7 linked regions of the Homo sapiens genome follow. The protein of the gene in region 5 purifies or fractionates together with the protein of the main gene of each other region. This does not show direct contact. Each region holds a gene or a part of one and is shown on either strand. Other genes may lie near its edges. The genes, in order: WARS2, OAT, DPCD, MGARP, MAN2B1, DTD1 and AGL.

What was found.
Region 1: the proteins of MAN2B1 (region 5) and WARS2 fractionate together in Homo sapiens (co-fractionation; one large-scale study listed by BioGRID). This does not show direct contact.
Region 2: the proteins of MAN2B1 (region 5) and OAT fractionate together in Homo sapiens (co-fractionation; one large-scale study listed by BioGRID). This does not show direct contact.
Region 3: the proteins of MAN2B1 (region 5) and DPCD fractionate together in Homo sapiens (co-fractionation; one large-scale study listed by BioGRID). This does not show direct contact.
Region 4: the proteins of MAN2B1 (region 5) and MGARP fractionate together in Homo sapiens (co-fractionation; one large-scale study listed by BioGRID). This does not show direct contact.
Region 6: the proteins of MAN2B1 (region 5) and DTD1 fractionate together in Homo sapiens (co-fractionation; one large-scale study listed by BioGRID). This does not show direct contact.
Region 7: the proteins of MAN2B1 (region 5) and AGL fractionate together in Homo sapiens (co-fractionation; one large-scale study listed by BioGRID). This does not show direct contact.

What each region holds. Positions count from the first base shown.
Region 1 is NC_000001.11:119,137,854-119,142,025, reverse strand, and holds the start of WARS2 (tryptophan--tRNA ligase, mitochondrial isoform 1 precursor), read left to right. Parts: upstream 1-1,372; 5' UTR 1,373-1,381; coding exon 1,382-1,471; exon of another isoform or gene 1,472-1,758; intron 1,759-4,172. UniProt on the Homo sapiens protein: Catalyzes the attachment of tryptophan to tRNA(Trp) in a two-step reaction: tryptophan is first activated by ATP to form Trp-AMP and then transferred to the acceptor end of tRNA(Trp).
Region 2 is NC_000010.11:124,412,424-124,415,923, reverse strand, and holds part of OAT (ornithine aminotransferase, mitochondrial isoform 1 precursor), read left to right. Parts: intron 1-851; exon of another isoform or gene 852-971; intron 972-1,491; exon of another isoform or gene 1,492-1,806; intron 1,807-3,500. UniProt on the Homo sapiens protein: Catalyzes the reversible interconversion of L-ornithine and 2-oxoglutarate to L-glutamate semialdehyde and L-glutamate.
Region 3 is NC_000010.11:101,607,742-101,610,162, forward strand, and holds the end of DPCD (protein DPCD), read left to right. Parts: intron 1-1,093; coding exon 1,094-1,196; intron 1,197-1,625; coding exon 1,626-1,730; 3' UTR 1,731-1,921; downstream 1,922-2,421. UniProt on the Homo sapiens protein: May play a role in the formation or function of ciliated cells.
Region 4 is NC_000004.12:139,267,946-139,270,225, reverse strand, and holds part of MGARP (protein MGARP), read left to right. Parts: intron 1-1,460; coding exon 1,461-1,554; intron 1,555-2,280. UniProt on the Homo sapiens protein: Plays a role in the trafficking of mitochondria along microtubules. Regulates the kinesin-mediated axonal transport of mitochondria to nerve terminals along microtubules during hypoxia.
Region 5 is NC_000019.10:12,656,743-12,660,242, reverse strand, and holds part of MAN2B1 (lysosomal alpha-mannosidase isoform 1 precursor), read left to right. Parts: intron 1-1,729; coding exon of another isoform or gene 1,730-1,732; coding exon 1,733-1,815; intron 1,816-1,898; coding exon 1,899-2,019; intron 2,020-2,101; coding exon 2,102-2,180; intron 2,181-2,687; coding exon 2,688-2,797; intron 2,798-3,186; coding exon 3,187-3,294; intron 3,295-3,500. UniProt on the Homo sapiens protein: Necessary for the catabolism of N-linked carbohydrates released during glycoprotein turnover. Cleaves all known types of alpha-mannosidic linkages.
Region 6 is NC_000020.11:18,759,054-18,762,553, forward strand, and holds part of DTD1 (D-aminoacyl-tRNA deacylase 1), read left to right. Parts: intron 1-3,500. UniProt on the Homo sapiens protein: Possible ATPase involved in DNA replication, may facilitate loading of CDC45 onto pre-replication complexes. An aminoacyl-tRNA editing enzyme that deacylates mischarged D-aminoacyl-tRNAs.
Region 7 is NC_000001.11:99,916,361-99,919,860, forward strand, and holds part of AGL (glycogen debranching enzyme), read left to right. Parts: intron 1-49; coding exon 50-137; intron 138-237; coding exon 238-371; intron 372-3,500. UniProt on the Homo sapiens protein: Multifunctional enzyme acting as 1,4-alpha-D-glucan:1,4-alpha-D-glucan 4-alpha-D-glycosyltransferase and amylo-1,6-glucosidase in glycogen degradation.

The sequences.
Region 1 (4,172 bases), on a different chromosome or scaffold from region 5:
ATTTTGGAAGTACTACAAGCACCTCAAATTTAACAGCCAAAACCAAACTGATCAGCTTTGTTGAAGACTATAACTTGATTTCCTAGTTTTTTTTTTGCCTTCATCCCTTTCCTGCTCACTTCTAAATTACACCAATTATACTTGAACTTCACCAGTACTTTGTATACCTACAAGATTATCCTATATGGTTTTAATTTACTGTTTTGTCTTACCCTGGTAGATTTCAGCTCCTTTATAGGCATCTCTTATCTCCTACCTCTCCTTGGTAATTTTCAGTAGCTGGATGAATTATAAACAAAACACATAAAGGAATTGTCATGAATTTCTTCCAGTTATATTTTTACTGAAACACTCGTTATCTGTCTGGGAGATTTTTAGGTGAATTAACAGAAGCAGAAAAACTGTATTAAACTTTCTCATAACCCCAAACAAAACAATTTCTTCCATCAGGTATAACCTTCCTGCAGCCTTCCCTAGACTAGGTTGAAACACCACAGTCATAACCACTCCTCCTTAAAACTTGCGGTGCTTGCTTCTTTAACACCTATTAAGTGTACATCATTTATTTATCCGCTACTCTATTAGACTGTACACAACTTGAAGACAAGATATGTCTTTCTCTGTACCTTCAGTGCCCAGCACATTACGGTAGGGTTCAACAAAGTTTACAGGACGAATGAAATAAGGCCACATAAGTCCAGTGCGGTGGCACATGCCTGTAATCCCAGCACTTTAGGAGGCCGAGGCAGATGGCTTGGCTTGAGCTCAGGAGTTTGAGAGAGCCTGGGCAACATGGTGAAACCCTGTCTCCACCAAAATACAAAAATTAGCCGGGCGTGGTGGCGCACCCTTGTGGTCCCAGCTACTCAGGAGGCTGAGGCAGGAGAATAGCTTGAGTCTGGGAGGTGGAGGTTGCAGTGAGCCGAGATCGCGCCATTGCACTCCAGCCTGGGCGAGAGTGAGACCTTGTCTCAAAGAAAAAAAAGGGAAATGAGGCCACACATGTCTAAAAAGACCACTTATATTACCCTCTAAGAGAACTGGGAGTTTCTAAACAAACTTTTTAAAGGTTGCCTTCACATAGCTAAGATCAGAAATGCAGCCTACTTGACTTTCTTCCAGTCTAAAGCGTTGCTACTAATAACCCCCAAGGAAATTCTCCTTCCAGGAAGGCTGAGCAGACAAGGGATCCAGGGAAAAACACTAAAGCCCCACCCCGCTCCTGTCCCCACCTGCTCGGCAAGAACTGCAGTCCGCCCGATAGCGGCTGCGCTGCGCAGCCTGGAGGCCCAAGCCGCGCCCAGCAAGCAGGAGTCGCGAGACTGGGATTGGCTCTCTGAACAGACGTCATTCCAAACAAGACGGCTCCGCCCTTCTCAAGATGGCGCTGCACTCAATGCGGAAAGCGCGTGAGCGCTGGAGCTTCATCCGGGCACTTCATAAGGGATCCGCAGCTGCTCCCGCTCTCCAGGTAACCAAAGACGGCCCTTCCCTCCGCGGCTTCCCATCCCGCGAGGTTCTTCTCATCCCACTGCCCTCTATTTATTTCTCTCCTCCCGCTTCTTAGGGAAAGTACATGCCTTCCCTCGCCTAAGGTCTACTCGTCTATGACTGTCGGCCTGCTCAGAGCGTAGTGACGTTGCAAGGATACGTGATGACGTAAAGGTTTCTTGGTGGAAAAAGCGCGCCGCTTTCTGACCTCTTGCCGCCACCTCCAGTTCTGGGAGCGGAGCGCCGCCGCTGTTGCCGGGCAACGCGGTGAGCCTACCCCGCGTGTGATGTTTTCAGAGACGGGTTGTTTTAGAGACTGCTCTTCTTGTGGTCTTATTACTGTTTTTACCCTCCTTACCCTAACAACACGCTAAGGGGCTATCGGAGAGAGTAGAGAAGTTTTGTTAGGCATTGGGCAGCTTGGGTCGGGGCAGCAGGTTGGCAGTGTGGTACTTGAGCAAGTGTCAGTGCATCTTCCATTCTGGTTGCTCCTGGTGGCTCCACAGCACTGCTCTATCTAGCAGGCTGTGAAAGAGTGACCGCAAGCTGCTACAGAGTTTGTCCTGTCCTGCGCTTGACAACACTGCTGTTACCATTAATCTCGTCGTACGGAGACCATGTCGCGGCCTGGTCTTATTGGGAATTGTCTTAAATATTTGGAATTTTACCCTCATAGCAAAAAAGTCAGGGGGAGGGGATACCCTTTCAGTTATTCAGGATTTTACCAAACGTCTTCCAAGTACAGTCTCAGTGGCAAGCACTTTGACATACTTTATCTACGGGAGATATATTCTGGGAACTAGAGAGAAAGGAGAGAATGTGATTTTATTAGGTAATTTCCCGGCATCATTTGCATATGTATTGCCATAATGAGTAGGTGTGAGGATGTCGCACCTATTGTAACTGTTGTGTTGAAAACAGCGCTAGACAGGAAGGTAGCCTAGAGGTCAAGGGTTTGGTCTGCCACTTGACAGCTGTGTGACAAGTCACAATCTCTCTGGGACTTTTCTTCTTTTTTTGCTCATATTGAGTGGAGGAAGAGAGCTGGACTGATTGACACGTTAATGTTCTTTCAACCTCTGGAAAATCTATAGTTCCATGATTATGAAGCCAAAACAAAGCCAATGAGAGTAATTATGAAAACCAAAATTTAAGTTCAACTTATTTTTCTAGTCATGTCATAAATTTTTTGAACTTCCGTTTTTTATTAATGTGAGCCTCACAAAATTCTTATAAGCTAATATATTAATATATACCGGAAAGCTGCTTGTCAGCAAACAACTATTCAAATGTCACCTTAAATTTCAGCAGCAATGTTAGGTAAGACAATTCAAAATTAGATAAATTTATCAAAAATTCCTCTCCTTGAAATTTGAGGGTTTGATTCTGCAGAACTAGAATGAGATGATTATTTATAATTTATAGCACATTAACACCTATGCTATCAAAGTAGCTAAGCCGTAGACCCAAACTTCCCCTTATTCCAAACTAAAGAATTGAAGATGTCTTGAGAATAGAGAATCAAAGAGAGAGAGAAAAAAAAGACAAACTGCAGCCTGCTAATGACTGCCCAGGGAAGTTTAAGACACTAAGTCATTATAAATGCTAAAGAAAAAATTTCTTAAACCTCTACTATTGTTTCAGTGGCATTTATGAATAGGGCTATTAAAGTTAATTATTAATCTAGATTGTTTCAAGATGTAGAATTTCCAGTACCGATGAATGTTTCTAAACCTTTAATTTAGCTTTGAGTAGAATAAGTATTAAATGTGAGAGTATTTTTTTAAAGTATAAATCTACATATAATTTCAGTCATTGAAAATGATGGTTTGAAAGATTAATGTGGTTTTTTGAAAGACTGAGAAAAGATACAAAATTGTGTTCATAGTGTTATTACGATGTTATGTTTATATATAAGTGTTTATATAAACGTATACATAGAAAAAAAGCCTGGAAGGGAACAAACATTTTTAACTTTTTTATTTTGCTTTGGCCTTCCTAAATAGTGGGTTAAAAGTTATTTGTTTCCTTTTATAGCATTACATATTTTTCACATGTCTAAATTGAAGACACACACTTTTTAATAACCAGAAAAACGTTTTGAAATCATAAATCTTTATACAGATCTTTAGTCATTAATATCATTTGTGATATTTTAGGATTCTGAGGAAGATACTTGTCCCACAATGCTGTTATTAAAATGGCCTTAGAAAAGGACTACTAAAAATTTATGGCCACTTTTCCTGTATGTATCTTCTTTTTCTCTTGAAAAGCTTCCTTTGAAGTCAAAGGGATTTTGTGAACAGATGCAGAAATATGTGAAAGAGGCATTGGATTCTTAAACCAGATGCATTAGACATTTTTATGATATCTCATAACCTTTGTAGAAAAAAATTATTTTGCAAGAGTATAGTATAATGGGAAAAAATGTATATTTATCATATGAATGGTTCCATCAAAAACCAAGAAATAGCCAAGTTAGTTTTTATTAGCCTTGGCTGTGCACTTACTCCCTTAGGTGTAAAGCAAAAGTGAATGAGCCATAACAGTGCTATGTTAGAAACTCTAACTAATAAAGTGTTGTGATTCCTAAGTTGTTTTAATGGTTTTTAGTGTTTTCTTTTTTTAAAACAAAATCTTGGGTAAAAATGTTGGCATAGGGCATCTTTGCTTATCTCAGA
Region 2 (3,500 bases), on a different chromosome or scaffold from region 5:
AAAAATAAATCATGGCACTGTTGATTCTGATATTTCAGAAACTGGCTAGTTTTAAGGGCAAAAGGGAACTGAGTGGCCATTTTGTGCTGGATTTGGCACAGTAACATTAACCCATTTCATCCTCAGTGACACTTCAACCTCCTTTTACAAATGGGGAGACTGAAGCTCAGAAAGATTGACAGAATCACCCAGAGTTACTCTTCAGAACCACAGACAGAATTTAAAATCCCGGTCTCCAAACTCGGGATTTTCCGCTTGATTCTCCCGGTTTTGAAACCTTTTTGGAAGAGGCTGTTATTGATGTTGGCTATTTTTAAGTCCATCTTAATTCTGCTCTAAGATTTCTCATACAGTGCCAAGCACAGTAACTTGAACACAGAAGGTTCTTTAATAGAAATGCGTTTACAGGATTTTGATACATCATGGCTCATCCAGTTTCTGACCTTTCCCAGTTGAATTAAATATCCAGAATTCATCTTAAAAACCTTAAGAATAGCTGACTCAGGGGTGTGTGCCTGTAGTCCCACCTCTTCCTGAGGCTGAGGCAGAAGGATCCCTTGAGCCCAGGTGTTCGAGGCCAACCTGGGCAACATAGCTGAGACTCCATCTGTAAGTGAAAAGAAACAAAAACCTTAAGAATGAGTATTAGTAATGTTTTGAATGATATTATTTTGTCCCCAGTTATTCTTTAATAAAACTGCCTAAACTTAACAGGTAAATGAATTTTTCATCCCATTTCTGTTGGAAATTAGCTGTGCAGATAACTTTTATATAAAATAAGAATGTTGAATTTAGATAATCTCTGATATTCCTTTTTTTTTTTTTTTTTTTTTTTTTTTTTTTTTTTTTAGCGCTTTGTAGCCCAGGCTGGAGTGCTGGTGGCACAGATCGTGGCTCACTGCAGCCCAGAACTCAGGGCTCAAGAGATCTTTCCACCTTAGTCTTAGTCTCCTAAGTACCAGATACTACAGGTACGCATCGCCACACCTGGCTAATATTCATATTTTTTATAGAGATGGGGTCTCCCTATGTTGCCCAGGTTGATCTTTAACTCCTGGGCTCAAGTGATCTGCCTTGGCCTCCCAAAGCGCTGGGATTATAGGCGTGAGCCACCTTGCCTGGCCCTAGAAAGTTGTTACGGTTTAGAGCACCACTAAGTATTGCCTGAGTGTTTTACTGCTAATTTGATAGGCAAAAATTAATGTTCTAATTTTTTAGTTGATCAAACAATTTATTCATACTGAGTAAAGCATAAAGAGTCCAAGAAAGAAATCATACATGAGTGTTTTAGACTTAGCAGTAGTATTTTGGGGAAGTTACATATAGTACAGTTAGACATTTTTGCTAGCAGCTACCTCCAGTTGGATGATTCTTACATCACTTTTGTTTTGATTGTTGGTACCCACCCCTTTGAGATAAAGTCTGATGAAAGTTATGGACCTTCTTCTTGGAAAAATATACGTCTGCATGTAATTCTGCATTTTATTTCAGGAGATTTTGGACTCTCTGCAGACTGTCCCTGGATCTTGGGTTAAAAATCTGTATTCTAGACTGAACCGTGGGAAGAAAAAATAGTCAGTGAGTCTTTGGCAAACCGGAGTACTGGATTTTGTTTAGCAATTGCAAATTCCTGAACATACTGGATTTACTGGGTAGTGCCAAGTTTAAAGGGAAGTAAGCCAAACTCCAAGTATTATGTTTTGCTAATTTGGCAGCTCGAATCAAGAGTGGCTGTGAGATTATACATGGTTTGACTTGTCATTGGTAGACTTCTGTTGAAACATGAATTAACTAGTCTTTTAGAAAGTAAGTATAGATGGAATAAGTATGCCTAGTTTTTGGCAACTTTCTCCTAATCATGAATTTATCTTTAAGCTTTTTTTTTTTTTTTCCTTCCAGAGGTGATTCCTATGCACATGCTCTAATTTCCTTTTAATTATTAGTTTCTTTCATAGCTTAGTTTTTACTTCATGGCTTATCAGGATGCTTAATGGTAAATTGGGTACAAAGAGGTGTGTGAAGCCTTGTGGAGGGGCTAGTTTTAGGGCTGGGGGTGACTGGGGAGAGTAGCTATGGCTCTGACTTATGTGATGGGGCGGCAGGGTAAACACCAGCCTGCTCAGTGATGTTTAGACTTTAACACTCATACAAGTAACGGATTGTAGTTTGTAGTTTGACTCTCTCTAGTTTCTCAGTTACCTTTTGCTAACAATAGCTTTTTCGTTTGTTTGTTTGTTTTTTGAGACGGAGTTTCACTCTTGTTGCTCAGGCTGGAGTGCAATGCGCAGTCTTGGCTCACTGCAGCCTCGTCCTCCCAAGTTCAAGCGATTCTCCTGCCTTAGCCTCCTGAGTCGCTGGGATTACAGGCATGCACCACCACGCCTGGCTAATTTTGTATTTTCAGTAGAGACGGGGTTTCTCCATGTTGGTCAGGCTGGTCTCGAACTCCCGATTCAGGTGATCGCCTGCCTCTGCCACCCAAAGTGCTGGGATTATAGGCATGAGTCACCGCACCTGGTCAACAATATCTTTTATGCTACAATTTTTCAGGATAAGTTTTGTAGAAACAACCATCCTAGCAGAATAGATTGTTTTGTTTGGGAATCTCATATATGTGTGTGTGTGTGTGTGTGTGTGTGTGTGTGTGTGTGTGTGTATGTATTTATGTATGTATGTATATGTTGGTCTAATTCAACTTGCTGTGAACACTTTAAAGCTATTATAAGTTAACATTTTTTTCCTAGTCTTTTTGCCTTTCACCTTTGTTTATGATAAATTTGACCTACAGAAGTTTTAGATATTTGTGGCTAAATAAAAGATTTTAGGCTGGGCACAGTGGCTCACACCTTTAATTCGAAAACTTTGGGAGGCCGTGGTGGGCGGACTGCTTGAGCCCAGAGGGATGGACAGTTCCTCTGTCTCCTGCCCCATGCCTAGTCTCTGGCAGTCTTCTCTGATTTGGTCTCCCTGCCTCTGGTCTCTGCCCTACAGTTGTAGCTGTCTCATAGCATTGTGCCTGATGGTATCGGACTGTGGTAGGTGCTTAACAAATACTTAGTGTTTAGCAGGTACTCAGTCAACACACAGTGCATTAGCTCTGGAAAGAGTCTTACTCTTATTGATTGGTTGGTTGATTGATTGCCTGATTGACAGGGTATCACTCTGTTGCCCAGGCTGGCCTCAAACTCTTGGGCTCAAGTGATCCTCCCGCCTCAGCCTCCTGAGCAGCTGGGGGCTACAGGCACAAACCACCACACCTGACTCAAGATTCTCACTCTTTTTTTTTCTTTTATAGAGACTATGTTGCCTAGGCTGGTCTTTAACTCCTCGGCTCAAGCGATCCTCCCATCTTGGCCTCCCAAGGTGCTGGAATTACAGATGTGAGCTATCACGCCTGGCCATTTTTTTTTTCTTGAGACTGGGCCTTTCTTTGTCTCCCAGGTTGGAGTACAGTGGCACAATCTCAGCTCACTGCAGCCTCAACTTCCGGGCTCAAGCAA
Region 3 (2,421 bases), on a different chromosome or scaffold from region 5:
CTGAGGTGTTTCCCTTCACAGCCCATACAACCTCTGCAGCAGAAAGTGATGCCTTGCCCAAGTGACAGGTCTAGCAGCCCCTGGCCAGAGCCTAAGCCACATTTCCACCAAGGAAAATGCCAAATTGGTGTACTGTTAGAGATGAGGAGGCCATTCATTGTGCTTTGGTGTAGTAAGGATCAGACCAAGGACAAGGAATCTTACTCTAATCTTGACTCCCATCCCTACCGACAACTGGCCGTGAAACAAGGCAAGATATTTCATCTCTCTGAGCCCGAGTTCCCTTTTAGGTAAGGGGGGTCAAATTTCCTGCAAAGTCTAGTTATACACATTACAGACTGGGTGTTGCCATCTGTTCTATTTTTTTTTTTAATTAAAAGGCATCATTAATCGCTGAACCGGCACCTGCAGATGATAAGGACCATGTGTGATATGTAAAAATGGAGGAGTAGGGACTTGGGGCCAGCCAAGTAGTCCAGAGGTCCAGCTTCCGTGATGAGTAACATGGTTCGTCCTCTCAAAGAGATTTCTCCTAGTAGATATACTTTTCCCTCTGGCCTACAAGGCCAGGCTAACAAGGCCTTGAAAGGCCCCAAAAGAGGAAGAGGTAGTTGAGGCCTTCAGTGGACCTCCCATGTAAATGGTAACAGTAGGGCCCCAGCTTTGGGAGACAGATCTGAATGTCCTTACTCTGTCCTTTGTTAGAACACGTCCCATTTTTCTGGTGTCTCCATGAGGCTTTGGGGGTAGAGGAGTCCCAAGCTGCTTGAGCTATTTGTGTGTTCCAGGCTTCTTCTGCCTGTCTTTGGGAGACCCAGCTCTGAGATGTGAGTCACTACAACCCCTGGTCTAATCACAGAATTATAACTAGGTTCTGCTCTTCTGCCACTGGACTGGACATAAGGCTTGCATTCTATGCTTTCCAGGGCCACTGAGCTCTGAAATACTGGTGTTCTAACTGGTTTCCCTTCTCCCTCTCTGCGTGTGTGGAAGGTGTGGAAGAACTAGGTAGAAGCTAGGCAGCAGAGGGCCTGACGCCTGGCTGTTGGGTCACCTTGCCGAGTGCCCCAATGGCCTCTCGGTGTCCCCACAGGTACTACAAGAAGTTCTCCATTCCTGATCTAGATAGACACCAGCTACCTCTGGATGACGCCTTGCTGAGCTTTGCCCACGCCAACTGCACCCTGATCATCTCTGTAAGATTCACCCAGACTTCTTGGACACTGCATCAGGGAGAGTCTTCCTCTTTCCCTGCCCACTTCCCATCCCATAAGAGTCCTCAGTTCTAGCCCCAAGCCCTAGGGTATGCTTGTGGGAGAATAGGCATCTCTAATTCAGCATGGGGGAGAGCAGGGAGGGGGCTCAGGAAGGAGCCTGACCATATAATTCACAGCTAGAAGAGGGTAGAGGGTGAAAGGGAAGCGGTGGAAATTGCTGAACTTGGGTTCTTCTGGTCCAAGGTCTGCTCCTACTCAGGCACATGACCTTGAGCAAATCATTCAATCCTACAGGCCTCAATTTTCTCGTGCAAATAAGGGGATCAGAAGGAGAAGGGGCCCCAAGTGTGTGTGGAAGGAGATGGGACAGTGACTGAATTATTTTCTTATTCCTGGCTGCATCCACAGTACCAGAAGCCAAAGGAGGTTGTGGTGGCCGAGTCTGAGCTACAGAAGGAACTAAAGAAGGTGAAGACAGCCCACAGCAACGATGGGGACTGCAAGACCCAGTAGTTGGCCCCTGAGCCTTATACCTCCACCACAGGGGGTGCCGTGAGACTTCAAGGCTTGGCCCTTCTTGACCACGGCAGCCTCCTGTCTTCTAGGAGCTATCAAGGGTCTCTAAGAACTGGGCATGGGGCACTCCTAGCCAGTGAGTCATGGTCATATTTCCTGAGTAAAGTCATTCTGAGTTACTTACTGCACAGGGACTGCCCTCTTGTTCCCCTCTGTATGCTGCCTGGCCCCAGACCCCACTGGCCTCCCTCGGGAGGGTGTGATGACATTCCTTTCTCTATCCCGGAGACCTACAACATAAAGCTTTCCACAAAAAGGGAGAATAGGGTGGGAGCACATGGCCCTAGCAGGGCAGGGCTGGCCTTTCCCTGCAACCTGTTTACACAAACTCAGAGGAAGACCAGGCTGGAGGGACCCTGTGCTACCGTAGCTTGCAGAAGTGGCTCAGAGGAAACTCCTGAAGATGTGTGGGCAAGGGAAAAGTTTTAAAAATGCAGAAACCGGCCAGGCGCAGTGGCTCACGTCTTAATCCCAGCACTTTGGGAGGACGAGACGGGCGGCTCACCTGAGGTCAATAGTTCAAGACCAGCCTGGCCAACATGGTGAAACCCTGTCTCTACTAAAAACACAAAAATTAGCCGGCCATGGTGGCGCATGCCTGTAATTCCAGCTACTCGGGAGGCTGAGG
Region 4 (2,280 bases), on a different chromosome or scaffold from region 5:
AGGGTTCAAGTGATTCTCCTGCCTCAGCCTCCCGAGTAGCTGGGATTACAGGCATGCGCCACCACGCCCGGCTAATTTTGTATTTTTAGTAGAGACCAGATTTCTCATGTTGGTCAGGCTGGTCTCAAACTCCCGACCTCAGGTGATCCGCTGGCCTCAGCCTCCCAAAGTGCTGGGATTACAGGTGTGGACCATTGCACCCGGCCCCGACATTACAGACATTCTATTTTCACAGCATAATTTTTACACTGTAAAATTGTTTGTAATTAAGTAGTACAATTTTTAAATAAGGTACTTGGTTTCTGATGGTTAAAAATTTAGAAGACACTATATATAAATAAATTTTAGAAATCTATCATCTTACCATTAAAAGTTAAACCACTACCAACATTTTCTTAAAAGCTAAATTAATACAAACAATAGTAACTGAATAATGAGATTTTCATTTTTTATATCATTTTCTAATATGAATACAGGCCAAAGAAGACTACTTAAATATAAAATGAAAGGAAGCCTGCACATTTTGTCTGTGATTAAAATAGCTTTCTTCCCAATACTGTTTCTTTCTTTCTTTTTTCTTTTTTTTTTTTTTTTTGAGATGGAGTCTTGCTCTGTCGCCCAGGGTGGAGTGCAATGGCATGATCTCGGCTCACTGCAACCTCCACCTCCTGGGTTCAAGCAATTCTCCCACCTCAGCCTTCTGAGTAGCTAGGGCTACAGGCGAGCACCACCACCATGCCTGGCTGTTTTTGTATTTTTAGTAGAGATGGGGTTTCACCATGTTGGCCAGACTGGTCTCGAACTCCTGACTTCAGGTGATCCACCCACCTCAGCCTCCCAAAGTGCTGGGATTACAGGCATGAGCCACCGCACCCGGCCTGATTCCAGTTTTTGACTATTACAAATAAAGGTACCATGAACATTTGTGTACAGGTTTTCATGTGAACCTAGATTTCCATTTCTCAAGGATAAATGCTAGAAAATATTTGTATATGCCTGTCAGGATATTCTGGTTGTAGCATAATTCATTTTTTTCTTCCTTGTTTTTAGTTATCTTTGGCTAAGATAGTGCATCTATTTCCTTCCCTTTTTAAAAAGTTTTATTTTAGGTTAAGGTGTACATGTGCAGGTTTGTTAATAGGTAAATTATGTGTCATGGGGGTTTGATGTATAGATTGATTTGTCACCCAGGTAATAAGTATGGTACCCAATAGGTAGTTTTTCTCTCCTCATCCCCTGTCTCACCTTTCTTCCTTTTTAAAGCATTCTATTTAATAACAAAGATTTCCAAAAGGGAAGTAAAAGAGTAAGTGGTGTGCACTGATTTCTCTTCTTTGCTACACTGGGATTATGGTTTAAACTTCTAATGGTGATTACAGGGAGACTTGAGTGTACCTTTGGATGTGGCGTGACAAATCTTAAAGCTCAAGAAATAAACCTAAGCATACATTTACTTTCAGGCTTACAAGACAGTCACATCAGACCAAGCCAAACACACAGAACATAAAACAAATTTGAAAGAAAAAACAAAAGCAGAGATACATCCATTTCAAGGTAAATGAATTTCTTAATTTTTTATTTTTATTTATTTTTTGAGGCACTAATTTCCATCCACTTAGTCTAGCAATGAACACTATTTGCTTTTGGCTTCTTTCCTAGCTTAATCCAGAATGACTCTAGGTATAAGTTCATTTAGAAAGGAAAAGTTCAACTGAAACCTGAAGAACACTGTTACACCTTTTGGATGAATGCATTTGACAAATGAATGTTTTACATTTATATTGCTGACCAGTGACTTTTGACTCCTTTGTGTGGTAATATTATTTTCCCCTGCTCAGGCATCCACCCATGCAGGCATGAGCTTTCATTTTTCTCATTATCTAAAAATAATAATATAACAAATTATCTTTCAGTTTTGGCTAAGACCACCTGTGTGCCTTTGTGCAAACAAGGTACATTTGACATAATAGAATCAGTTGTGTATAATGAGTCCTTCAGTTGATAAAATGGTGACCATGGGAACAGAAACTTTATATTTTCACTCTTTCCTTCCTTCCTACACTTCTTTTTCCCACCCTCCCTTCCTTCCCCCTTCCTTTCCCCCTTCCCTCCACGGGCTCTCCCTCTGTCAACCAGGCTGGAGTGCAGTGGTGCAATCATAGCCTACTGCAGCCTTGAACTCCTGGGCTCCAGCAATCTTCCCATCACAGCCTCTCAAGCAACTAGGACTACAAGCATGCACCGCTACACCCAGCAAATTTATTTTTTATGTTTTGCAGA
Region 5 (3,500 bases):
TGAGCCACTGTGTGGCCTAATTTCCCTACTTTAAGTTTGGCTGATGAACAACCTCAATTCCATCTGCAACCTTAATTCCCCTTTTGCCATGTAATCTAATGTGGTAATAGGTTCTGGGGATCAGGACATGGACACTTTTGGGCAGTTATCATTTTACCCAACACAGATGTGTTAGTGTTTTGCACTAAGTGGCCTGTGGCTGTGGCTGTGTGCACAGTCAGTCACTCTCATCAGCACAGAAACTTGTCTCCCCTCTCCCATCTCAGACACCCCTTCCCATCAATCTTGTCCTCACTACGGTGCAATCTCCATTCCCACCTTCCACTCGCTCCCAGCACTGCTATTTCACCAAAACAGCTCTTTTATGTCATTTATTTTTATTTATTTTTTCTTTTTAAAATTTTATTTATTTATTTATTTATTGAGACAAGAGTCTTGCTTTGTCACCCAGGCTGGAGTGCAGTGGCATGATCTTGCCTCATGGCAACCTCTGCCTCCTGGGTTCTAGTGATTCTCCTGCCTCAGCCTCCCAAGTAGCTGGGACTACAGGCATGTGCCACCAACCCTGGCTAATTTTTGTATTTTTAGTAGAGGCAGGGTTTCACTATGTTGGCCAGGCTGGTCTCAAAACTCCTGACCTCAGGTGATCCGTCCGCCTTGGCCTCCCAAAGTGTTGGGATTGTAATCTGAGGTGGGCGGATCACTTGAAGACAGGAGTTGGAGACCAGCCTGGCCAACATGGTGAAACCTTGTCTCTACTAAAAATACTACAAATTAGGTGGGCGTGATGGCACTCATCTGTAAGACCAGCTACTCGGCAGGCTGAGGCAGGAGAATCGCTGGAACCTGGGAGGCGGAGTTTGCAGCCAGCTGAGATCGTGCCACTGCACTCCAGCTTGGGCGACAGAGTCAGACTCAGTCTCAAAAAAAAAAAAAAAAAAAAAAGTTTATTGAGCACCTACTGTGTACATTGGGGGACACAGCTCGTGCAAAACAAACATCCTTTTCCTCACATAGGTCACTTTCTTGTTCCTCCACCTTGCTCAGGTGAAAGTGCACCTCCATTCATTATAAAAATTGTGTCTAGGCCGGGCACGGTGGCTCATGCCTGTAATCCCAGCACTTTGGGAGGCTGAGGCGGGCGGATCATGAGGTCAGGAGATCGAGACCATCCTGGCTAACACGGTGAAACTCCGTCTCTACTAAAAAATGCAAAAAATTAGCCGGGTGTGGTGGCGGGCACCTGTAGTCCCAGGTACTCATGAGGCTGAGGCTGGAGAATGGCGTGAACCCAAGAGGTGGAGCTTGCAGTGAGCTGAGATTGAGCCACTGCACTACAGCCTGGGCAACAAAGTAAGACTCCGTCCCAAAAAAAAAAAGTTGTGTTTTTTGGTAACAATCTGACAGTCCTGCAAAACGATTATTCCTGCCCTATAATGTCACACTTAGTTTTTCCACAAAAGTTTTTAATAATAAAGTTGGAATTATTGTAAAAGTTTAGTAAAATTTCAGGTTTATTCTTGCATCTCTGAAATCCTTTTAAAAAAGGCTAGTGGTCATGTTTGACTTCAGCCAAAATTCATTTTCACACCCAACCATTGGCTTGCACGCCAAATATGTATTTAGAGAAACTGAACCTATGGGATGCATGAATGTGCACACATGTGTGGAAGTGTGGGCCCCCAGGAAGGTGCGGACTCCCGAGGGCTCACTCCGTCGCCTCCCCCAGCAGCAGGCAAAAGGAAGCAGTGTCCATGTTCTCTACTCCACCCCCGCTTGTTACCTCTGGGAGCTGAACAAGGCCAACCTCACCTGGTATTTGGGGAAACTGGGGAGCTTGGGGGGGTTGGCATGCCCCGTGGGTCATGACCCTGCCCTCAATGCCCCTGCCGCTGTAGGTCAGTGAAACATGACGACTTCTTCCCTTACGCGGATGGCCCCCACCAGTTCTGGACCGGTTACTTTTCCAGTCGGCCGGCCCTCAAACGCTACGAGCGCCTCAGCTACAACTTCCTGCAGGTGGGTAGGAGCCGGGCTAGAGGGGGCATGCAGCCCCGAGGCCCGACAGGCTGGGCGCCCCAACATACCCCTCTGCCTCCAGGTGTGCAACCAGCTGGAGGCGCTGGTGGGCCTGGCGGCCAACGTGGGACCCTATGGCTCCGGAGACAGTGCACCCCTCAGTAAGTGTCGGGCCCAAGAGGGGAAGAGGTTTGCGGCTGAAGTTGGAAACCACCCCTAGGCCGCCCCCCTCGAGTTTCTTCTTTTTTTTTTTTTTTTTTTTTTTTTTTGAGACGGAGTCTCGATTTGTCTCCCAGGCTGGAGTGCAGTGGTGCGATCTCGGCTCACTGCAAGCTCCACCTCCCGTGTTCACGCCATTCTCCTGACTCAGCCTCCCGAGTAGCTGGGACTACAGGCGCCCACCACCACGCCCGGCTAATTTTTTGTATTTTTAGTAGAGACGGGGTTTCACCATGTTAGCCAGGATGGTCTCGATCTGACCTCGTGATCCGCCCGCCTCGGTCTCTCAAAGTGCTGGGATTACAGGCGTGAGCCACCGCCCCCAGCCGTCCTCGAGTTCCTTCTTAAAGCCTCTAAGAATCCTGCCCGCCAGCACCGGACCTTTCGCTTCCCCTTGGGGTCTCAGCTGAGTCCCACAGAACCTCACCGGACTCATTGTCTATGAGCAGATGAGGCGATGGCTGTGCTCCAGCATCACGACGCCGTCAGCGGCACCTCCCGCCAGCACGTGGCCAACGACTACGCGCGCCAGCTTGCGGCAGGCTGGGGGCCTTGCGAGGTGCGCGGGGCGAGACTTGGGAGACACGGGGGTGGAGACAGGAAGGGGCGGGGCCAGGGCCTGGGAAAGGGGACAGAGACAGGTGTGAGGCGTAGCCGAGAGCCCTGTGGCGGGGCTACAAGGGCTCGTGGGGGCGGGGCTTGTAGGAGGCGGGGAAAGATACAGGAACGGGGCGGGGCTTTGGAGGGGGGAAGGAGGCGGGGCGTGGGCAAGAGGAGGCGGAGACAGCTATGGGGTATAGTCAAGGGCAGCAGGGTGGGGCTAGAAGGGGTTTTGGGGCGACTCTTGAGGGAGGCGGGACAGAGACCGGAACGGGGCGGGGCCTGAGGAGAGGGGAGGAGTCAGGCCTGGCGTCCTGAACCCACCGGTCCCTTTGCGCTCTTCCGCAGGTTCTTCTGAGCAACGCGCTGGCGCGGCTCAGAGGCTTCAAAGATCACTTCACCTTTTGCCAACAGCTAAACATCAGCATCTGCCCGCTCAGCCAGACGGCGGCGCGCGTGAGCCGGGACGGGAGGGGTGGATCTAGGGCAGATGGGCTTTAGAGGGGGTAGTTGGAAAATGTTTTTGGAGGACTATACAGGAGTGAAATTACGTGGGCTGCGAAGCTGGGTCAGCAGAGAGAACAACGCATCTCGAGGGGGCTTGGCCTTAAGTGCCGTGACCACACTAGGACCAGCCAGGGGTGTTTCTGTGCAAAGTGGGT
Region 6 (3,500 bases), on a different chromosome or scaffold from region 5:
CAACCCCTGCCTTTTTTTGTTTTTTCATTTGCTTGGTAGATCTTCCTCCATCCTTTTATTTTGAGCATATGTGTGTCTCTGCACGTGAGATGGGTTTCCTGAATACAGCACACTGATGGGTCTTGACTCTTTATCCGATTTGCCAGTCTGTGTCTTTGAATTGGAGCATTTAGCCCATTCACATTTAACGTTAATATTGTTATGTGTGAATTTGATCCTGTCATTATGATGTTAGCTGGTTATTTTGCTCGTTAGTTGATGCAGTTTCTTCCTAGCCTCGATGGTCTTTACAATTTGGCATGTTTTTGCAGTGGCTGGTACCTTTGTTCCTTTCCATGTTTAGTGCTTCCTTCAGGAGCTCTTTTAGGGCAGGCCTGGTGGTGACCAATCTCTCAGCATTTGCTTGTCTGTAAAGTATTTTATTTCTCCTTCACTTAGGAAGCTTAGTTTGGCTGGATATGAAATTCTGAGTTGAAAATTCTTTTCTTTAAGAATGTTGAATATTGGCCCCCACTCTCTTCTAGCTTGTAGAGTTTCTGCCGAGAGATCCGCTGTTAGTCTGATGGGCTTCCCTTTGTGGGTAACCCAACCTTTCTCTCTGGCTGCCCTTAACATTTTTTCCTTCATTTCAACTTTGGTGAATCTGACAATTATGCGTCTTGGAGTTGCTCTTCTCGAGCAGTATCTTTGTGGCGTTCTCTGTATTTCCTGAATGTGAATGTTGGCCTGCCTTGCTAGATTGGGGAAGTTCTCCTGGATAATATCCTGCAGCATGTTTTCCAACTTGGTTCCATTCTCCCCGTCACTTTCAGGTACACCAATCAGATGTAGATTTGGTCTTTTCACATAGTCCCATATTTCTTGGAGGTTTTGTTCGTTTCTTTTTATTCTTTTTTCTCTAAACTTCTCTTCTCGCTTCATTTCATTCATTTGATCTTCCATCACTGATACCCTTTCTTCCAGTTGATCGAATTGGCTATTGAGGCTTATGCGTTCGTCACATAGTTCTCGTGTCGTGGTTTTCAGCTCCATCAGGTCCTTTAAGGACTTCTCTGCATTGGTTATTCTAGTTAGCCATTCGTCTAATCTTTTTTCAAGGTTTTTATCTTCTTTGCCATGGGTTCGAACTTCCTCCTTTAGCTCGGAGTGGTTTGATCATCTGAAGCCTTCTTCTCTCAACTCGTCAAAGTCATTCTCTGTCCAGCTTTGTTCCATTGCTGGTGAGGAGCTGCATTCTTTTGGAGGAGGAGAGGTGCTCTGATTTTTAGAATTTTAAGTTTTTCTACTCTGTGTTTTCCTCATCTTTATGGTTTTATCTACCTTTGGTCTTTGATGATGGTGACGTACAGATAGGGTTTTGGTGTGGATGTCCTTTCTGTTTGTTTGTTTTCCTTCTAATAGTCAGGACCCTCAGCTGCAGGTCTGTTGGAGTTTGCTGGAGGTCCACTCCAGACCCTGTTTGCCTGGCTATCAGCAGTGGAGGCTGCAGAACAGTGGATATTGGTGAACAGCAAATGTTGCTGCCTGATCGTTCCTCTGGAAGTTTTGTCTCAGAGGAGTACCCGGCCGTGTGAGGTGTTAGTCTGCCCCTACAGTGCGGTGCCTCCCAGTTAGGCTACTCAGGGGTCAGGGACCCACTTGAGGAGGCAGTCTGTCTGTTCTCAGATCTCAAGCTGCATGCTGGGAGAACCACTACTCTCTTCAAAGCTGTCAGACAGGGACATTTAAGTCTGCAGAGGTTTCTGCTGCCTTTTGTTTGTCTGTGCCCTGTCCCCAGAGGTGGAGTCTACAGAGGCAGGCAGGCCTCCTTGAGCTGCGGTGGGCTCCACCCAGTTCGAGCTTCCCGGCCGCTTTGTTTGCCTACTCAAGCCTCGGCAATGGTGGGCGCCCCTCCCCCAGCCTTGCTGCCACCTTGCAATTTGATCTCAGACTGCTGTGCTAGCAATGAGCGAGGCTCTGTGGGCGTAGGACCCTCAGAGCCATGCGCGGGATATAATCTCCTGGTGTGCCGTTTGCTAAGACCATTGCAAAAGCGCATTATTAGGGTGGGAGTGACCCGATTTTCCAGGTGCTGTCTATCACCCCTTTCCTTGGCTAGGAAAGGGAATTCCCTGGCCCCTTGCGCTTCCCGGGCGAGGCGATGCCTCGCCCTGCTCGGTGTGCTGCAGCTACTGTCCTGCATCCACTGTCCAGCAATCCCCAGTGAGATGAACCCTGTACCTGAGTTGGAAATGCAGAAATCATTCGTCTTCTGCGTGGCTCACACTGGGAGGTGTAGACTGGAGCTGTTCCTATTTGGCCATCTTGGCTCCACCTCTGATAATTATTATTAACATAATGCTTTGGAATACTTTTTCTAAACAGGTAATTCTACATCTGTTTCTCTAACTTTACAAAGTTGGAGACATACTGTATATATATAGTGTCACCTGTTTTTTATCTTTTAACAGAATATCTTTAACATTTCTCTAGGTCATTCTTTTACTGTGAGCTTTATAATTTCCATCTGCACATCAAATATTTGAAGACTAAATTATCCCAATGCATTAAAAATGTAGAATATTGTAGAATATTTAATTGAAGTAAATGTAAAAGAAAAATACGTTCAACCAGGATTCCAAAGCTCATCTTAAGTTCAAAAACAAAGATTTTAATCTGTGCCAAGAAGATGGAGTTTCTCAAAGGTCAATGTGGGGAACAATTACAGTATTTCAGTTATTGGTATTGAAGGTAGGGAAACAAGTATGAATAGTCCCCAGGTCCGTAACTTGGGTTAACATCATCCACACAATGTAAGAACAAATGGGTTGTTTCTAATAGCTAAAAACTGAAAGTAATATGGTCCCCAGGAATGATGTTGTCTGTTCTCCACCCACTGGTTGTCTTTTAGAAAACTCTTAGGAAGGTGTGCAGGACTCTTACAGGTGGGTTTGGGTGTACGAGGGTAGCCCTTGGGGATATGGTGGCAGACAGAGCTGCAGAGCATGGGCTAGCTGTGGTTCCAGCTTGCCTTTCTCATGTGTGCACAGGGACTTCGCTATCCAGCTGGGCAGGGGAATGAGGGCTGTTAGTCTATGGAAGCATCTGCTTGTGATACAACCCTTTCTTAAGAAGGTGGCCTGCACTGAGTGTATCAGGAAGCACATCCATGGAGGTGGCACTGCCATGGCATATTGAGTCGTATTGAAATCTTTTGCTTTTACTGAAGTCCATCCAATTAGAATCTAGATCTGAGGGAATAGAAACTCTTCTGTTAGGCTTTAGCTTTAGTTTAACTTTTGGATGACAAATGCATGCATCATAGATCTCGGCAATACTAGCTGGTTTTTGTTATAGCCTCGGAATTACAAAAGGAAACCCTGAGACACTTGGACTTCTGTACCAAACAGCCAGGCATCCTTTGAGTAGTATTTAAAATGTCGCAAGACTAAGCATTTAGTTTATTCCCTCCCTGTCCCTGCATTTCCTTAAGCTCCCATCCCTCTACCTCCCTCATTGTT
Region 7 (3,500 bases), on a different chromosome or scaffold from region 5:
ATAATATCTGATCATCTTTTATTTAACTTAAATTTCAATCATTTTGCAGTGATATGGTTTACTGTGGAATTTATGACAATGCATTAGACAATGACAACTACAATCTTGCTAAAGGTTTCAATTATCACCAAGGACCTGTAAGAATTTCATTTATCTTCTGAGTTTCAGTTTAAATTATTTTTCAAGTAATTTTTAGGTATTTATGGTTTTTTTTGTCTTTTAAATAATCTTTTTTAGGAGTGGCTGTGGCCTATTGGGTATTTTCTTCGTGCAAAATTATATTTTTCCAGATTGATGGGCCCGGAGACTACTGCAAAGACTATAGTTTTGGTTAAAAATGTTCTTTCCCGACATTATGTTCATCTTGAGAGGTAAGTCATCAGGAGCATGTAATTTCCATAACTAGTGTTTAGTCAGTTTATTAGCTATTAGGTAAATTACAGTTTCTTAGAATTGATTTCTGTATGCCCTAGGTATCCCAATGAAAAGTGAAGCCTTTATTCTTTAACATGACAAATTCTGTTATATAATTTTCACTTTCTCTTATTTTGGGTTGTTATTTATTTTAAGTTGAGGTCTTGATATTGTGCGATTTATACATGTGGAATAGTCTTTGATTTTTAAAATTTCCCTGATGTTTTTGGATGTGGTTAGCACAGGATAAATATAAAAACTGAAGGTACTCAGCCTGGGCCTTTTGAGTTAATTGATTTAAAGATATATCAAGAAATAGTTTTCAGAAATGCTTTCATTATAGTTAAAATATCAGAACTGGTCTTTTGCCTGTTAGTTCAAAAAACATTTTTCACTTCCTTGTCCTAATTATTAGCAAATAGACAGTGTCAGAGTTACGTATCTTTATAAGAGTATAAATTCAGAGTGTATCTTAATTCCTCAAATTTTAGATTATACCTAAGTATATCTATATTCTATTCCTCAGATAATGAATAAACAGCACAAATTTTATCTCCTTTCTTACAAGCACATAAGGGACTTCTGCGTGTTTCATATTAATAGAGCCACTCCTGGTCTGTTTTGTTTGGTTGTCACCATGGTACAGATTTTACCATCCTTTTAAGCTATTTATGTCTTTGTATTTAAAGTGGCTTTCTTGTACATAGTAGCATGTAATCGGGCCTTGCTCTCGTGTAGCACAACAGTTTCTGCTTTTGGAATATTTAGACCATTTACACTTAAGGTCTGAAATTGTGAAATTTAAATGTTTGTTGTCTGTTTATTCTGTCTGTTCTTTGTTAGCTTTTTCCTCTTTTTGTGCTTCTTTTGCATTGAATATTTATTATTTCATTTTAATCTCCTTTGTTGGCTAATTAGATGTAATTCTTGTTTATTTAAAATGGCTGCTTTAGGTTTATAGTATATGTCTTTATAGTTTACCTTCCAGTGATATACCACTTCAAGTAAGGTATAAAGATCCTTAAAATAGTATAGTTTTATTTTTCCCCTCCCGGCCTGTGTGCTATCATCATCATCCATTTTGCTTTTACCTGTTATTACCCCCCACACTACATGGTTACTACATTTGTTTAGGCAGTCAGTTATGTTTTAATGATCTTTAAATAATATATTAAAAAGTCTAATTACTCTTATAGTTGCCATTTTCAGTGCTCTTCATATGTTTGTGATGTTCTGTATCTCCATCTTGTATCATTTTCCTTCTACCCGAAGGACTTTCTCCATCATGTCTTGTAGTGTTTGCCTCCTCATGATGAATTCTTTCAATTCTTATAAGTGTAAAACATCTGTGTTTTGCCTTTATTTTAAAGATATTTTCACTATGTATAGAATTCAAAGTTAAGCTTTTTTCTCTTTCATACTTTAAGGTGGTTACATTGTTTTGATAAGAAATCTGCATCATTTTTATGTCTAACCTACCATCACATCCATGCTGGTGTTTTTCATTTCAACGTTGTAGTTTTCATTTCTCAAAGTTTTATCTGGGCTGTTTTTATATCTTCCATGTCTCTGCTTAATGTTTTGAACATGTGGAATATGATTACAGTGACTCTTTTAATATCCTTGTCTGCTAATTCATTTCTGGGTTGCTTTTGCTTGTGATTGTTCTCTTTATTTTGGGTCATATCACCCTGCTTCTTTGCTTGGTAGTTTTTGTTTTTTGATTTTTGGAGCGACAGGGGTCTTGCTATCTTGCCCAGGCTGGTCTCGAACTCCTAGGCTCAAGCAGTCCCCCAACCTCGGCCTCCTGAAGTGCTGAGATTACAGGCATGAGCCACCACACCCAGCCATTTGCCTGGTTATTTTTTATTAGATACCAGATGTGAATTTTACCTTGTTGGGTGCTAGATTTTTGGTGTTTCTGTAAATGTTTTTGAGCTTTGTTTTGGAATGCAGTGAAATTACTTGGAAACAGTTTGATCCTTTCTGGTCTTGATTTTAAGCTTGTTAGACCTGACCAGAATAGCATTTGGTCTAGGAATAATTATTCTCCATTAGTGAATCAAGACCCATCTGTGTTCCCTACCCTGTATTTCGAAAATTATGACGTTTTCAAATCTGGCTGGTGGGAACAAGCAAGTGTTCCTGACGCTGTATGAGTGCCACATACTGCTTCTTCTCATCCTTTTGGATGGTTCTTTCCTTGTTCTTTGGTAGTTTCCTCTTGTGAATTTGCTGGTTGGTACACTACAGATACTTGAGTGGGACCCTCTGCATATCTTCAGAGTTCTCTCTTTGTACAGCTCCTTCCTCTCTAGTACTCTATCCTGCAAATTGTAGCTGCTTTGTAGTGTTCCTGGATTCTCAGTTCAACTCAAGGAAGTCTGCCAGGCTCCACCTGTGTTCCCCCTCTCTGTGCCAAATCCTGGAAACTCTCAAGGCAGTAAGGTATGGTAATCATAGGGTTTGCTTCATTTGTTTCTCATCCTTCAAGGATCGCTATTTGTTGCCTAATGTCTAATGTCTTAATGTCCAGTTCTTCAGTTGTATCAGACAGGAGGGAAATTCTGTCCATACTACTTCCTGTTTGTCACATATGGAAGTCCTTCCTTGCTTTCTGGCCCAGCAAGGTTTTCAACACTCATCTTTCACTTTCACTACCCCAGCCTGGAATTGGGCAATTCTCTAAGGATCCCTTGTTCTTTATAGTGAAAAATGTTATTTAGAAGCCAGATCTGAGCACATGGTGTATTTATTATTACTATGACCCCCAGTAGATAGGGCTAGGGAATATATAATAATACATAAACATAAGTAAATACATACACACTTATCTTCATCTCAATGTATCCTGTCTATGTGTGTTGAAAACCTGAGTTTACACCAGTTCCAAGCTATTTCTCAGTGTTTAATTCTATTTTTCTCCCTTTCTATATTTGTAATTCCCTTTTCCAACAATGAATAACCTACTTCCCACATTGGGCCATCACCACCACATAGAGTCTGCTCACCCAGCTTGGGCCTGCTACCCCACAGTAAGCCACCTCTATGTGTGGAGCCCTCCTGGCACCACTTGGATTCTAACT